Linked DNA regions of Homo sapiens: all the other regions are linked to region 2. The links come from fine-mapping of genetic effects on gene expression. A gene starts in region 2. Each other region holds a variant in brackets. All regions are shown on one strand. Distances are between the middles of the regions.

Region 1 (5,225 bases), 68 kb after region 2:
GGTACCTTCCCACTCTTCTCATTCCAGTGGCCGTTTGGGCATCCTGGGCCAGCCCAAGGACATCTTCCAGTGGCCGTTTGGGCATCCTGGGTGGTAGCAGGTATCTCCATTGCACTCTATTTGCCACCTCACCCTGAAGGAAGGTACGAGGGCCCCTTCAAACGCCATACAAAGACCTTCCGGAGTGCCCAGTGTGCAGATTGCCTGGTACAATGTCCAGCCTCCCCAGACCTTCTATCTTCACTTCTATCTTTCTCTTGCAACTTGACCTTCATCTGTTTTGAAATCCCTAATTGACCTGGGTGGGCATGGGCCTTGGGAGGAACTGATGAACATTCTTTTTATTTTCTCACTCACCCCTGCCACAAACATTCTTTAATAGGCTTTAGCCCCTTTATCTCTTCTTTTGTCTTCTTGTCTCAAGGGCCCCACTGCTTCTTTCTTCCTTCCTTCCCTTTCCTTCCTTCCTTCCCTTTCCTTCCTTCCTTCCCTTTCCTTCCTTCCTTCCTTCCTTCCTTCCTTCCTTCCTTCCTTCCTTCTTCCTTTCTCTCTCTCTATTTCTTTCTTCCTCTCTCTCTCTCTCTCTCTCTCTTTCTTTTGACAGAATCTTGCTCTGTTGCCCAGGCTGGAGTGCAGTGGTGCGATCTCAGCTCACTGCAGCCTCCGCCTCCCTGATTCAAGCAATTCTCCTGCCTCAGCCTCCCAAGTAGCTGGAACTACAGGTGCACGTTGCCATTCCTGGCTAATTTTTGTATCTTTAGTAGAGACAGGGTTTCACCATGTTGGTCAGGCTGGTCTTGATCTCCTGACCTCAGATGATCTGCCTGCCTCAGCCTCCCAAAGTGCTGGGATTACAGGCATAATTAAAGGCCTGCCCCTTTCATTTCAATCTGTTCCTGAGTGTCCCTGATGACCCTGTCCCTCATTGCCTGTCCCAATGGGAAATGCCCAAGACTGGAGGGCAGGGCCTAAGGACAAGCTGCAGGGTCGGGGCATGACAAAGGTTTTTCTGCTCAGCTGCTTCTCTTTCCCACTCTGCTGTTCCTTACTACTTCAGAGAGAAAATCCCAAAGAAGGTGTTTCTGCGGCTTGGCAAAGGGAGGAGAGAGTTCATGGGTTCTCAGGAATGCTACAGTTAATGCCTCTAATTAACACCCCAGGTGCTTCTGCTACGGCTGCACTGCTGCTTTGTAATCATTTCTCTGTACTCTGCCTCAGACATGCGCTCTGGAACCGTGAGCCATTTGGGAGGTGCAAGAGGATTCCAGGAAATGGCAGCAAGGCCTTAGAGGAGTTTAAGTATGTACTTGGCCAGGACAAAAGTCTGTCTTCATCTAGGCTCTAGGTGCTGACTTCTGTAACAGGGGAGCTGTTAACTTCTTCCTGGGAATCCACCTTCTACCCCACACCCAGAAGCAGAGCACCATCCACTCAGGCCTCCAAGTGCTCCAGGCCTTGTATTCCACCTCTGCCTACTTTGAGCCAGCAACTGATTTCAGCAGGAATTCACTGAGACTGACATCCTCTATGCTCAGCACTGTGTGCCAATAGTATGGCCACACAAGTAGATTTTTTCCTATTTCTCTTTTCTTAGGCTAATGGTTCAGCTCTAAAGATAAGACTTATGTAAGTAAAATAAGCAGAATATCTATTAACTTCGTATTCAGTTCCTGAAGGAATATAATCAAAGCAATACAGGGAGTCGGTACAAGGTAAAGTCAAAGTCGTGTGTTCAATATGGTAGCCACTAGCCACAAGCACCTATTTAAATGTAAATTAAAGAAAATTAAATGAAATAAAAAATGTAGTTTCTCAGTCATACTAGGCATAGTAGGTGCTCAACAGCCACATGTACCTAGTGGCCACTATACGGGAAAATGCAAAATTAACCTTCTCACTAGAGAAAGTCCTATTGGACAGTATTGGCTTGCAGTAATAGAGGCCAACTTCAGAGTATAGGTGTGGCTCCACCTGGGCCTGGAAGTATAGCAGAATTAGATAGAAGAGGAGGGAAAGGGAAAGGGTCTTCCAGGTGGGACAAACGGTGTTCAGAGATTGGAATGAACCTGGCATACCGGGCCAACACTCAGTGGGAGAGGACTAGCTGGAGTAGAACATTCCTTTTGAGGAACTGAGAAAGGCATCATCACTGATTATAACAGGCACAGAGAATGCAACAGAAGAGCCCAACCTCCTCCTCTCAATTCTCAATTGAAATTGAGATTGATGGGATTCCCGTAATCCCACCTTTCACTTTTACTCCACCCCATCAAGAGGACAGGGTTCTGATTCAACCTTGGGCTTCTGATCTTGGGGGGTGGGAGCTTGGAGTCATAACTAATTATCTGCTCTATTTGAAAACACTGCTGGGACTGGACTGTGTTGG[G/T]GACCTGAACCTGCAACCTGTGACCTTACTCCCCACTCGAGCTGGCCTTTGAACCTGCTTTGTCACTGAGAAATGATGAAAAGCTCAGAAGTCAGACCCACTTGAATTCAATTACTGGCACTTCTACTCACCAACCAAGTGCTCATAGGCAAGTAATTTAACTCCTCCAAACCTCAGTTTACCCATCTACAAAATGGGGATGATAATAGCACTGGCCTCATAGAATAGTTATGATGGTTCAATGGGATAACAGTTGCAAGGGGCTTGGCATAGTTCACAGCAAAATGAAATGAATAATCTATTCATTATGTTATTCCCCTATCACACTGAAGCTGTTTGCAGGTGCACTGCTGTTATTGTATCTGCTTCCTTCTGAATTAAAAAATTTTTAAATATAATTGAATCCATTGGTTTTTTCTCTAATGATTTGTGTTCTTTTTGTCTTATATAAAAAATTTTTCCCTACCTCAAGATCTTAAAGATTGTCACCTATATTTTCTTCTAAAAGTGTTTTTAAGTATATTTTTAATTGTAGAATAATATACTTACAAGGTGCACAGATGATAAAAGTATAGCTCCAGGAATTTTCATAAAGTCCACACATCTATGTAAGCAGACCCAGATTAAGAAAGAGCATAATCAGAAGCCAGGGGGTGTCACTCAGGCCTCCTTTAGTCACAAGCTCCCTAGCCAGGGTAAGTATTAATCTGACTTCTAATGTAACAATTTAGTGTTTCCTGTTTTTGAACTTTATAAAGGCCTACAGACGCAGCATATACTCTTAGATGTCTGAGTCCTATTTGTGTGATTCATTCACACTGTGCATACAGCCATAGCTTTTTCATTCCTACAGTTTTACACTTTTCAACTGTATGGATAGACCAGAATTTATTCATCCATTTCACTGTTTTTAGACATTTGAGTAGTTTCCAATTTTTGACTACAATGAACAGTGCTGCAATTGTACGTGCCTTTTGGTGAACATATGTACATATTTCTGTTGGGTGTGCAGGCCCAGGAGAGGATCATTCCTTAGTTGTTACCATAGTCTCCAAATGTCATAGCAGGAGGAAGGCTTGGGGTACATCCAATCTGCCCTGTTTCAGAGAAGGGGAAGACGGCCCAGTGTGGACAGTGATCTGCTGAGGCCCTGCAGCTCACATGTGGCAGAACTGGGTATCCCAAGAGCCAGAACCCTAATTTGTCCTGCTTTTCTTCCAGTTCTGTACCAGTACACCCCTGCTCACCTCCTCTAACTCCACAACCTAGGAGCTCCAATTAAGAAAACTGTAGCCCCTTAGGGCATTTACAATATTGCTTTCCTTTTTCTTTTCCTTTTTTAGAGACATGGCCTCACTCTGCTGCCCAGGCTGGAGTGCAATGGCACAATCACAGCTCACTGCAGCCTCAAACTCCTGGGCTCAAGTGATCCTCCCACTTCAGCCTCCTGAGTAGTTCGGACTACAGGCATGTGCCACCATGCCTGGCTAATTTTAAAAAAAATAGATATGTGGGCTCGCTATGTTGCCCAGGCTGGTCTTGAACTCTTGGCCTCAAGCAGTTCTTTCATGTGGGCTTCCCAAAGCACTGGGATTACAGGTGTGAGCCATCACACCCAGCTTAACACTGCTTTCTCAACTCAGCTTCAATTTTCCCTCATTTTGGTCAAACGTTCCCTAAAAGCCCAGAATATCTCCATGCCTTTTTGTTTCAAGTCTGCTATAACTATTGTCCTCCATGGTCTTCCCTGAACACCTCCTACTGCCCTGCAACATCTCCTTTTCATTTTCAGCATACCTGGTAGCTTCCTTCCCTAGGGCTCTCTAGCATGTCCGGTATGTGGTATGGACCTGTCTGATAATTCCATTACACTTATAATAAAAGCCCCTGCCCTCACCTGGCTCCTTGGCAGCTGGTGATAATGCATGCATGACCCACCAACCATGGCTCCTTCCATTAGCTATCCTGGACCTCCTTGGATTTATAATGTCCAACTGTATTGCTATAATCCTAGGGTGTGGGAGGCAGCATGGAAAGGGGAGAGATGCTGCAAACCTAGCTGTGGAAATGACCTGCCTAGGCTGGGCTGGGTCCCCTCCGCCAGGCACTGCTCCGGGGCACTGGCACATCCCACCCAGGGCAGCTCTTTCTTCTGTTCAGTGACTTTGTCAACTTTGGTGCTGCTGAGGCATCAAGACATTACTGTGAGGGCCCACCCCTTTACGTCCTTTAAATGTTAGGCTTCCAAAGAGGCCTTTCCTGACACTCCTAGAGAGATTACACCCCACTCCACTTCCAGCAACCCAATTTCCCTTCCCTTCCTTTTTATTTCTCTTTAACACTTATCACTGCCTTACATACTATATTTTTATTTTATTGCTTGTCTTTTCCCACTAGAATGTAAGCTCCACATAGGCCAAGATTTTGGTCGATTTTGTTTTTTGCTCTATTGCTGCCACTTAGGTGCCTGGCATATTGGAGCACTAAAAAAAAATTTGCTAAATATGGGAATACATTCAGAAGTTATCTAGAATTGGTGTCTCGGTCCTGCTCACCATCATTTTTAGGTCTTCAAACTCTAAAGCGTTGATCTTACCCTCTTTCTAAGGCTACATGACATGACCTAGATATTTGCCACATAAAAGACCTGCTTGCAAGTGATTTTTATTTGATGAGGGGGGAAATTTCTCCTTTTTTACTGCAACACAAGGTCTGGCATGTGAGTTGCATGGAAGAGGACAATTCAGCTGAATGGTAGGTCAACTTTGGCTAAGCTGGAACAAAACAGCCCCCAAGTTTGACCTCCACTGAGTGTTCTGCTGCCAGGTCGGGGCAGGGC
Region 2 (5,225 bases):
ATTAATACCAGAGGATGTGGTTAAACAAGACATGTGCACCTGATAGTCGTGGGAATACTATGAAGACCTCTCACTGGTTTGCAGTAATTACCATGAGCTCAATAGCAACAAGGGGCAGTGGTTACATGGGCTCACTCTTGGGCCAGACTCTGGCTTCAGAACCAACCTGTGTCACCTTGGGAAGATACTTAACCTCTCCATGCCTCTGTTTAGCCACTGGGTTGTTGGAAGGACTAAGTAAATTAAATCATATAAAACTCTTAGTGCCTGGCACAGAGGTTAGGCAAATAAATATTGGCTATTACAAATATTTGCTGAGTCTTCACATGCTGGGTAGCATGACCTAACAGCCTTCAAAAAGATATGTCACTTTACATACTGATAATGATAAACACAAAAAGCACTGAATACAAACCCCATTCTAAGCACTTTACATATAACAACTCGGTTAAGCTAAAGTTCTGATGTGACTGTTCCCCAACACGCTACACAGTTTGTTCAGAGCCAGGTTTCTATGCTTTTATGTGATTTCTTCCCTCAAACACTTCTTATACTCTGATGACATGCATACATGCCACCCAGTACTGCTAACCAACTGCTTTGAAATGGGAGAGATTAACCAGCTAACCACCTGTAGGCTTACATGTGACAAAAGCACTCAGACATGATAGGCCTACTTCAGGAAGCCTCAAAACCTCAGAAGTTGGGCACCACCCTGTATCTAGGTTTTAGGATTGTGTGTAGGAGTTGGGCTGTTGCTGATGTTATGTTCTCTTGGTCTCAAAAGACATTCTGGTTTTACAAAGGCCAGATCTACACTTTAAACATAATTAGGCAGAATTCACATTCATGCCAGCATAATATTGAAGAAAGGGGTGAGACAGCAAAGTGTGTAATTTTCTCCCTTTCAGTCAATGCTTGAAACTTACATTACGAAAATACTATCCTTCTATCATGCAAAATATTTCCCAAGTGTCATATGATCAACTATGTCAAATGTTCACCAAACATTTCCTGATATCATATATGTAAAATGTAGCAATACATTGAATGTCTCATAACCAACTATCTCAAGAACTCCTTCAAATTATGTTTAACATTCAAAATAGATACACCCGTTTCTTCTTTAAAAACTATTACCAACATGCCAGCACTTCTGGGCACCTTAAGTGTTATCACAGACTGAACTCTTCAGAAAGATGAAGAGTTAAATGTAGCTGCCTTTATTTTATCCTGGTCCTCCTTCCATAAAGTTAATCTGCTCCATTTAAGCAAAGGAAAATAAGTTATAATGCAAGTACAATATAATGGAGACTTCGATATAAAAACTTTCTACAAATGCTCCATTTATAATGTTCCAGTTATTTATAGGGTTAAGTAACTTAACCCTATAAATGGGTTGGTCCCATAACTTAATTACACAAATATTTTTAACAGTCAAGTATTTAACTTGAAAACGACAAATTGCACTGTACTCTTATTTTTTCAATCTTTAAAAACACTCTCACTAGGAGTCTTCTAAAGCCAAAATTAGGAACGTACCCTGCACTATGTAGTCAGAAGCCATTCCAAGAAAAGCAACCATTTAATACTGCTAAATCTAAAATGCTACATAATTTAACGTAAACTTGCACGCACGTGTATGTAGCTAGTCCCATACCCCAGAATCTTATCAATTCCTTCCCCAAACTTGCATATAATCCTCCCTCAAAGCCTCTTGGCTAAGTTAAATTCCTTAACACTCTACCAGGTTAATTGCAACAGCACATGTGCCAAGGAAATTAGTGGTTTTCCTTGCGCTCCCATTTTCAACCGGCACCTACTTGCAATTAAATCTCTGCAACAAAAAAGTTCACCTGAAGCCGTTCTTGCCATTTTAAAAGAGGCCCAGATTATGCTACCTGTCTGTGGTCTTGCCTAAGCTATAATAGCCTACCTCCAAAGAGGCTGGACGTGCCCCAAACACCAGCACACCAGACCTGCTGCCAACTTCGCTTGTCACCCCTAGCAGGAAGCTCAACCTAACATGTATACGTTTGTAGGGGCGGTGTGTTTGTGTGTGTCTGTGTTGGGGGGTGGGGAAGCGGATTATAGGAGAAAGGTGACTGAACACTTTCAACTTGTAACAAAAAAAATTTTTTTTAAATGAGGAGAAAAACAACTAAAACCAACATTCGCTCCCTTTCCTCCACCTTTTCTAAGCGCAGGAACCTCTCACTCCCCTGGAGCGCACCTTCAGGGCTTAAGGTCCCCGGGGTCACCTAAGCTTCAGCCAGTAACTGATTTTGGTACTCCCCGCCTTCCTAGGGAAAACCAGCAGACGCGCGAAGCGTCGGGCCCACCCGGCGGCGCCGCAGGCCGTGCACCGCCACCCCCGGACCCTCCCCCGCAGGTACGCTCCCCTCTGGCCTGGCCGTGGTCCCCACTCCCGCCCCGGAAAAGGGTTCACCTGAGGCCGCAGGGACAGCCAATGAGAAGTCCCCTTGGCCCCGCCAGCCGCCGCTCCCTACCCCCGCGCGACCCCCAGTAGCGTCCCCAGTGCTAGCCCCCGCGCGGGTGCCCGCGTCCCGGCCCGGAAGAGAGGCGGGACGACGGCGCGTCCTCTCCCCGCAAGATTACCTCGCAGCGCGTAGCCGGCTTTGTGTTTCCCCTCCCTCCTTCTCGGCAGCCGCCCGGGCTGCAGCAGCCGCCGGATCCGCCGCTGCGGCCGCCTCTTAAGCGCCGCAGAGCCCCAGAGGGTAGGGCGGGAGAAGGGGAGGGGGCTTGAGGAGGGAGGGACCTGTACGCCGAGCCCTGTGCAGCAGGAAGCGGCGACACCTGGGATGCCGACGCCTCTGGCGCTTGCTCTGTGTTTTAAAAAATCTAATTTAAACCCCTCTTCTTTCCCTCCCGCCCCTCACACTGGCGACCGTTACGGGCTGGCGGCTCGCGCTCTGGCGGGACTAGCCGAGCGCCCCTCGAGCGTCCCTTGGTCCCGCCCCCTAACGCCCCGCCCCTAGGTCCCCAAGCGCCCCCCCCGGTCACGCCCCCAAGGTCCGCCCCTCGCAGCCCCCTACGCCTCTGGCCCCGCCTCTTGGGCTCCGAAGCCTCCCGGCCCCGCCTCCTCAAGACCTCGCCTCTGGCAGCCCCGAGCTCTCTCTGGCCCCGCCCCGAGCGCCCCTCGGGAGTCCTGGTCCCGCCCCCGCAGCCCCCTCCGCGCCCTCAAGCTCTAAGTCCGTGAAGCCGCAGCGGTGGGGGCCTGCAGGCCCGGCAGCCGGGAGGGCCTGGTTCGGGGCGGCTGCCTGGCGCCTTTTCAACGTCCTCTTCTGACTGTGCAGCTCGAATCCGCGGCGTCCCCGGAGGGCCAGAGGGGGAAACGACCCCGATAGAAACCCGACCGCGAAGGGGAGGAGGGGCGCCTCGGAAATGTCTCCCGCCCTAAATGAGCGAGCCCCCTACTCCTACTCCCGAGGCTGAGCCGCCGCTTTGAGTCAGCCTCGGCCGCCCACGCTGGCTGCTGGGGCTGTAGGAGGCCACTGCAAAGGTTCAACCTCCGCACGCCCCCCGTGGGGCCTGGACTTTGCTCTCAGCACAGCTGCCTTCGCGGGCGCCTAGTCCCCACAACCCCTGCTTCACCTCCACATAGGGGGAGGACAGGGGCTCTCGCTTCTGCTTCATTTGGACCCCTCGAGAGTCTTCACTCCCGCTTTGGCTCCCGGCCTCTGAACCTTATGAGAGCTCACTTCTTTGAGGCGAAAAGTCGAGGCATCGCCAAGAACCTTCAAAATGAATGCGGGGCCGGGCAAACTTTGCAACACGCAATTGCAGGGCTGTGGATCCATCCACAGGTGACACCGGGCCTCCCACCCCCCTCGCCCAGACATGTTTCTCATCCCAACCTATTCTTGAAATAGACCTCCCAGCGGTGCACACTTTTCTCTGCCACCCACGACTTCCACGTCCCTCCTGCACCAGTACACTTGCAAGCACACCCCTCCGAGCGCCATTCTAATGATTCATGGTCCCTTGGGCCAACCCCACCCTAACACACACAACAAACTTCGTTCCCCACCCTTATCCCCCTTCGTTTCCAAGGCACTGGCGACAATCCACTTCATTTCCTTTCCTCATCTGCAGACTCGTCCCCCTCAAATACCTCACGCCATCCGCCTCATCTTCATCCCCCCCCTCCTCCCTAAAAATGTGCTAATTAAAATGTAGTTTCCTCTTCCCACATATGAAGTGTGGAAAATGAATCTTGTCTTGACACAAACTGTGATGCATTTATCGTTTTCTCTCTCCACTGGACTAAGGCTGTAGAAATTTTAGTCTACCACCATCTCCCATTTGCTCAAAAAATCCAACCATGCCTTATTATTTTTAAATACTCTTAACGAATCGTGGGGAAGGCTGCCTAGTTTGAGGAAGAAAATTGTTTAGAAAATGCTCAGCCTGACATTTTATTTGGTATTTAAAAATATCTGCAGTATTTGAGAGAGATATTGGGAGTGGCTGGATATTTTCTTGCATTTAAAAAGCAAAAAAATGAAAAGCTTTGCATGCATCAAGGTTAGCCTTTTTATGAATAGCAAAAAAAGTATCCTAAGGGCACCTATCAGAATATAGTCCTCACTATATTTTGCTAGTCGCAAATCTGGACACCCCCACCACCACCAAAGGAAGACAAATTAACATAATCCATTTTAAGCATGTCTGATGAACAGTCTTTTCCATGATCATTCCTTTTCTCACAGTTTCTGGACAAAATAGCTAGATAGATCTCCTTACCCACCGAAGATCCAAAGCTTCCTTCTAACAAGGGTAGTAGACGTACGTGTCTGTGTCTTCTGTTCTCTAGGTGTGGATTCTGCAATGCTGCACAGAAACCTACTGCAGCCTCAGACCAACAGCAGCAGCAGCAGCGGCGGCGGCGGCAGCAGCAGCAGCAGCATTAGCAGCAGCAGCTTCTCTCAATGCTGAGTAGTAAGTGTTTGACTTAGTAAACTCTACAATTACCATTAGGCGCTTGCTTATGAGAGGAGGCGGAATCTTTCTTAAAGGAATGGGTTTTGTTTTTCCTCTCTAGTATTGCTTCATAAGAGGCAGAGAGGATGGAATCAGGGAGTTTTGTGGACTGAGTAAATGAGTACAGCTGTGGGAGGTCAAGGTTAAAATTAACTGGGTGGTTGAGGAATGGAGGCAATGATTTTAGTGTAAGTCAATGAAATGCTAGAAGCACCAGTTTT
Region 3 (5,225 bases), 110 kb before region 2:
TTTCTTGTGGCCCTTCCAATAAATTAAGATTATTACCATTTGCTTCATGAGAATTTGCTTTATTTATTTATTTATTTATTGAGGACTGAGTTTCACTCTTGTTGCCCAGGCTGGAGTGCAATGGCACGATATCGGCTCACTGCAAACTTCGCCTCCCGGGTTCAAGCGATTCTCCCGCCTCAGCCTCCCAAGTAGCTGGGATTACAGGCACATGACACCACGCCCTGTTAATTTTGTATTTTTAGTACAGACGGGGTTTCTCCATGTTGGTCAGGCTGGTCTCGAACTCCTGACCTCAGGTGATCTACCCAGCTCAGCCTCCCAAAGTGCTGGGATTACAGGCATGAGCTACCGTGCCTGGCCAAATCTGCTTGATTTAAAGAGAAAATTAGGGCCTTTAGTTTAATTAGATCCCATTTGTCAATTTTGTCTTTTGTTGCCATTGCTTTTGGTGTTTTGGACATGAAGTCCTTGCCCATGCCTATGTCCTGAATGGTAATGCCTAGGTTTTCTTCTAAGGTTTTTATGGTTTTAGGTCTAACGTTTAAATCTTTAATCCATCTTGAATTGATTTTTGTATAAGGTGTAAGGAAGGGATCCAGTTTCAGCTTTCTACATATGGCTAGCCAGTTTTCCCAGCACCATTTATTAAATAGGGAATCCTTTCCCCATTGCTTGTTTTTCTCAGGTTTGTCAAAGATCAGCTAGTCGTAGGTATGTGGCGTTATTTCTGAGGGCTCCGTTCTGTTCCATTTATCTATATCTCTGTTTTGATACCAGTACCATGCTGTTTTGGTTACTGTAGCCTTGTAGTATAGTTTGAAGTCAGGTAGTGTGATGCCTCCAGCTTTGTTCTTTTGGCTTAGGATTGACTTGGCGATGCGGGCTCTCTAGTTCAACCATTGTGGAAGTCAGTGTGGCGATTCCTCAGGGATCTTGAACTAGAAATACCATTTGACCCAGCCATTCCATTACTGGGTATATACCCAAAGGACTATAAATCATGCTGCTATAAAGACACATGCACACGTATGTTTATTGCGGCATTATTCACAATAGCAAAGACTTGGAACCAACCAAATGTCCAACAATGATAGACTGGATTAAGAAAATGTGGCACATATACACCATAGAATACTATGCAGCCATAAAAAATGATGAGTTCATGTCCTTTGTAGGGACATGGATGAAATTGGAAATCATCATTCTCAGTAAACTATCACAAGAACAAAAAACCAAACACCGCATATTCTCACTCATAGGTGGGAATTGAACAATGAGATCACATGGACACAGGAAGGGGAATATCACACTCTGGGGACTGTGGTGGGGTGGGGGGAGGGGGGAGGGATAGCATTGGGAGATATACCTAATGCTAGATGACGAGTTGGTGGGTGCAGCGCACCAGCATGGCACATGTATACATATGTAACTAACCTGCACAATGTGCACATGTACCCTAAAACTTAAAGTATAATTAAAAAAAAAAGAAAAAGAAAAAGAAAATTAGGGCCTTTAAATACATTCAACATCTCTGATGAAAAAAATGATTAATAAATATCCAACCTCTCATCATAATGAGGCTGTGGAATTGTTGAAAACTGCAATTTCATATAACTTCTGGACCTAGTCAAACTTTTTACAAAAGTGACCACAACACATTTGATTCTTGATTTGCAGCTGTTTTTCTTCCTTAATTAGTACCACCACTACAGGGTGAAAACAGAAATATGCAATTGTACTAACTTAAAAAGCAGGATTGTAGGGAAAATGATGTTTATGAGGCCCTTAGATTGTGTGTGAGAAAATTTTAATTTCCTTTACTCCTATTTTCAATTCAAGAGATAACTGAGTTGAAAACCCTGCCTACATAAGTAGAGCAGAACTTCTCTTAAAAGACAAAAAGCCACTAACTAATATGTATTTGCAAATAAGTACACAAAATCCAACTAAACGAGCAAATAACAAAGCAATTAAAAAAGGGGAATAATGTTTCCTACCTGAATCTCACAGGCTAGTTGCACATTAAAAATATAATGAAAAGCCTCCTCTAATGTTTCTCCAAGTGCAACCACACCATGATTCCTGAGTACCAGCACCTAAAATAGAATGCCCACAGCAATCACTTGAAATAACTGGCATAGCTCACACTGTTTTCATCAACAGCAGCAGCAACAAAAATAGCTCCTTAGACAAACTCTACTACATACCTTACAACTTGGTCCCAGAACCTTCTGCAGTTGAATTCTCTCCTCCTGTTCTTCAAGTGACCCTTGGTAGTCATAATAGGCAACATCTCCCAGAAGAAGAGACTCTTGAGAAATTGGAAGGATCCCACATTTCATGGAGGATACCTATTTGGTTTGGCCCATACCAAGATAACACATTTGGTTACTAAATACATTTTCATAGGAACCTGATTGTTTGGTCAGCTCAGGAAAACACTGGCCTATTCACTGTGTTTCACCATTGCAGCCCACTTCCCACTTTATTCACTTCCCATTTTGTTTCTTCCACACACACACAAAAAGGACTTAGGGAATACAACTCAACTTATATGCTGTGTCAAATATTATGAAAGAAGCTTTGCTCCAAAAAACTCAATGACCCAATTTTCAAACTGGTTAGTTTTAGAATCCAAATGTTATTTCTCCAGTTGTTTCCTAGAATGGTAGCATTTGGTCCCAAAGGCCTTTTGCTTTCTGGGTATGCAGATTATTGTATCAAATATGATTTTGAAAAGCAGATAGTAAAGCATCCTGTTGAGAAAGCCACAAAAATAATACATCTTCCAGCGTCCTGTCAGTTTTGG[A/C]CTTTCATTGACTTACAGCTGCTGTTGCAAGGGTATGGATGTGTATCACACACTTAACATCAGGACGTGTTGAATAGATTGCAGCATGGGGACTGAATCCTGTATGGTCAATTTTCAAATTGGTACTTCCCTGGTCAACCACTTCTCCTATTATATTGACTTTCACCTGGAAAAAATCAGAAGGACATATTTAACTGGTATATACGTATCAAAGTTTGTGTTTCACAAGCTAAACCAGGGGGTAGCAAACCTTTTTGTAAAAGGTCAGATAGCAAATATTTTGGACTTTGTGGGCCTCTGCTGCAATTACTCAAATCTGCAGCTGCAGTACAAAAGCAGCCATAAACAATCTGTAAGTTAACAGGTATAGCTTTGTTCCCATAAAACTTTATTTATAAAACAGGTGCAACAAAACTTGGTACTTGGCAAGAAGTACAGTTTCCAAGAAAAGGAGAAACTTAAGCTCTTCATCGGAGGTCTGAACAAGTCTGGCATGTATAGAATTGGCTAGAAAACTTCTATTTGCTAACATTGCAGCAAGCACCCAGAACCAAGGTAGCTCCTGTCACTCTGTAAGCTGATGACAGTGGCTAGGAGTAGTCATGGAAAAGATAAAATACTAAGGTCAGATCCTATACTCATACCAGCTGAACTTTGTTTAAATCTAGCTATGAACATTGTGTGTGTGTGTGTGTGTGTGTGTGTGTGTGTGTGTGTGTGTGTGTGTGTGTGTATTGAAGACAGAGTCTCGCCCTGTAGCCCAGGCTGGAGTGCAATGGTGCGATCTTGGCTCACTGCAACCTCTACCTTATGGATTCAAGCGATTCTCCTGCCTCAGCCTCCCGAGTAGCCGGGATTACAGGTGTGTGCCACCACGCCCAGCTAATTTTTTGTTATCTTTAGTAGAGATGGGGTTTCACCATGTTGGTCAGGCTGGTCTTGAACTCCTGACCTCGTGATCCACTTGCCTCAGCCTCCCAAAGTGCTTGGATTACAGGCGTGAGCCACTGCACCTGGCCGTGTGTGTTTTTTTTACACAATTTTTTTACACAAATTTCTGAGTGTATAGGGTGGTAAAAAAAAAAAAATCACGATTCCCTTCAAAACATAGACAAGTTAACTGATAAGACCAACTCATTTATTAGTCTCTTCAATTACGCTATTCTCTAAAGCTTTTCCCTAAAACAACATAGTTCAAATTCCCTTCACTGTTCACTAGTAAATGTTTTTCCATCCATACCTTCTTATTCTGTCCTGTGCTAAAAGCTAAGAACTGTCAGAAAAGCCAAAGAAAGCTCAGAAAAAGCAACACAGGAATGGAAAATTATACCAAATTGGAGGCTGTAGCTTCAGAAAAAGATAGGCCTCTGGGAATTATTATAATGTGGTCTTGCTCCTTACTTATTCTTACCTGGAAAAAAAAACAACAGGGAATTACTATGAAGTGGTTCATATTTTGCAGTGGAAACATGACTACAAATATATTTACAATGAATAATTGTAAGAGATCAGGAAAAAAAAAACCAACAAAGCAAAAATTAAAGGTCTACAACATGAAACTTTCCTAAAGTTTCCCTCAAGTACTTGCTAAAAAATTCTGACTTTAGTTTCTTATTTACTGGACTTACCTAAAAGTGTTATTTTGGGGCTCTAAGGTTATTTAGGGTCAGCTATGTTCATGAAAAATAAATGCTAATATTATTCAAGCCAATGTGGTAATAATTATAACCTTAATTTATAACTTGGAAGTTAAGGCAAAATGGGCAAAGGAAAGAGAACAAAATCTCTTCCTAGGAAGGAATTAAAATAAAGATGGAAGGTGGAAAGGAAGAAAGATTCTTGATGGACTGCATCTGTACCATTTCCATTGTACAATATTTTAATCCTCTTTTGTTTCCAAATAGCATCTTTTTCCAAGTGTGGCAAAATAAAAATATGATGGTGAATGGAAAGAATATATTTTAAAAATAAAGACCAGGGAGGAAACTTCCCTGACCTCCTCTATCTTCCTTGCCTCAAATGCTTTTTAAAGCCACTGATGCTCAGACATAATTATCATGGAGAGGGACAATTTTGCCAGAAGGATTTCTTCCTGGATAGATTCTACAGTTGGTCTGAACCAAAGGAACTTGGAACAACATAGATAGTAAGGGGAGAAGAAAGGTGGGGGAATTGGAGCCTCTCCCTTGGGTATAAGGTTTAAATCAGTATTTGGTTGTGATCTAGCATACTAGGTTTAGAGAATAAGTCTGAAAACTGGACTTCCAGGTAAAGGTAAGAAGAGTATAGTTGCCTTCTAGCTGGAATTTTTTAAAAAAGGAATTGAAAGCTGAAGAACTCACTGAGATATAGGTATTTGCCAGGTGTGCCCATCCAAACAAGTCTACAAGTCTGTACAGGCTGGCAAGTTTAC

What was found. PIP is the estimated chance that this variant, and not a neighbour inherited with it, causes the effect. A credible set is the group of variants that fine-mapping cannot tell apart.
Region 1: its variant is the best candidate, but not a certain one, in a credible set for the expression of ADD3 in whole blood (TOPMed, PIP 0.65).
Region 3: its variant is the best candidate, but not a certain one, in a credible set for the expression of ADD3 in whole blood (TOPMed, PIP 0.90).

What each region holds. Positions count from the first base shown.
Region 1 is chr10:109,937,663-109,942,887 of GRCh38, reverse strand. No RefSeq gene overlaps it. Among named protein-coding and RNA genes, the nearest start is that of XPNPEP1, 17 kb to the right of the region's middle. The variant G/T (reference allele first, on the strand shown) is at 2,387.
Region 2 is chr10:110,005,694-110,010,918 of GRCh38, reverse strand. ADD3 (adducin 3) reads right to left here and starts at 2,935. Exons shown (of 15, transcript NM_016824.5): 1 at 2,620-2,935. ADD3-AS1 (ADD3 antisense RNA 1) reads left to right here and starts at 2,538. Exons shown (of 5, transcript NR_038943.1): 1 at 2,538-2,738; 2 at 4,838-4,962. RefSeq lists silencers at 2,203-2,612, 2,923-3,352 and enhancers at 3,181-3,734, 3,735-4,290.
Region 3 is chr10:110,116,340-110,121,564 of GRCh38, reverse strand. ADD3 (adducin 3) reads right to left here. Exons shown (of 15, transcript NM_016824.5): 4 at 5,155-5,225; 5 at 4,143-4,223; 6 at 2,829-2,978; 7 at 2,211-2,354; 8 at 2,001-2,099. Among named protein-coding and RNA genes, the nearest start is that of MXI1, 89 kb to the left of the region's middle. The variant A/C (reference allele first, on the strand shown) is at 2,813.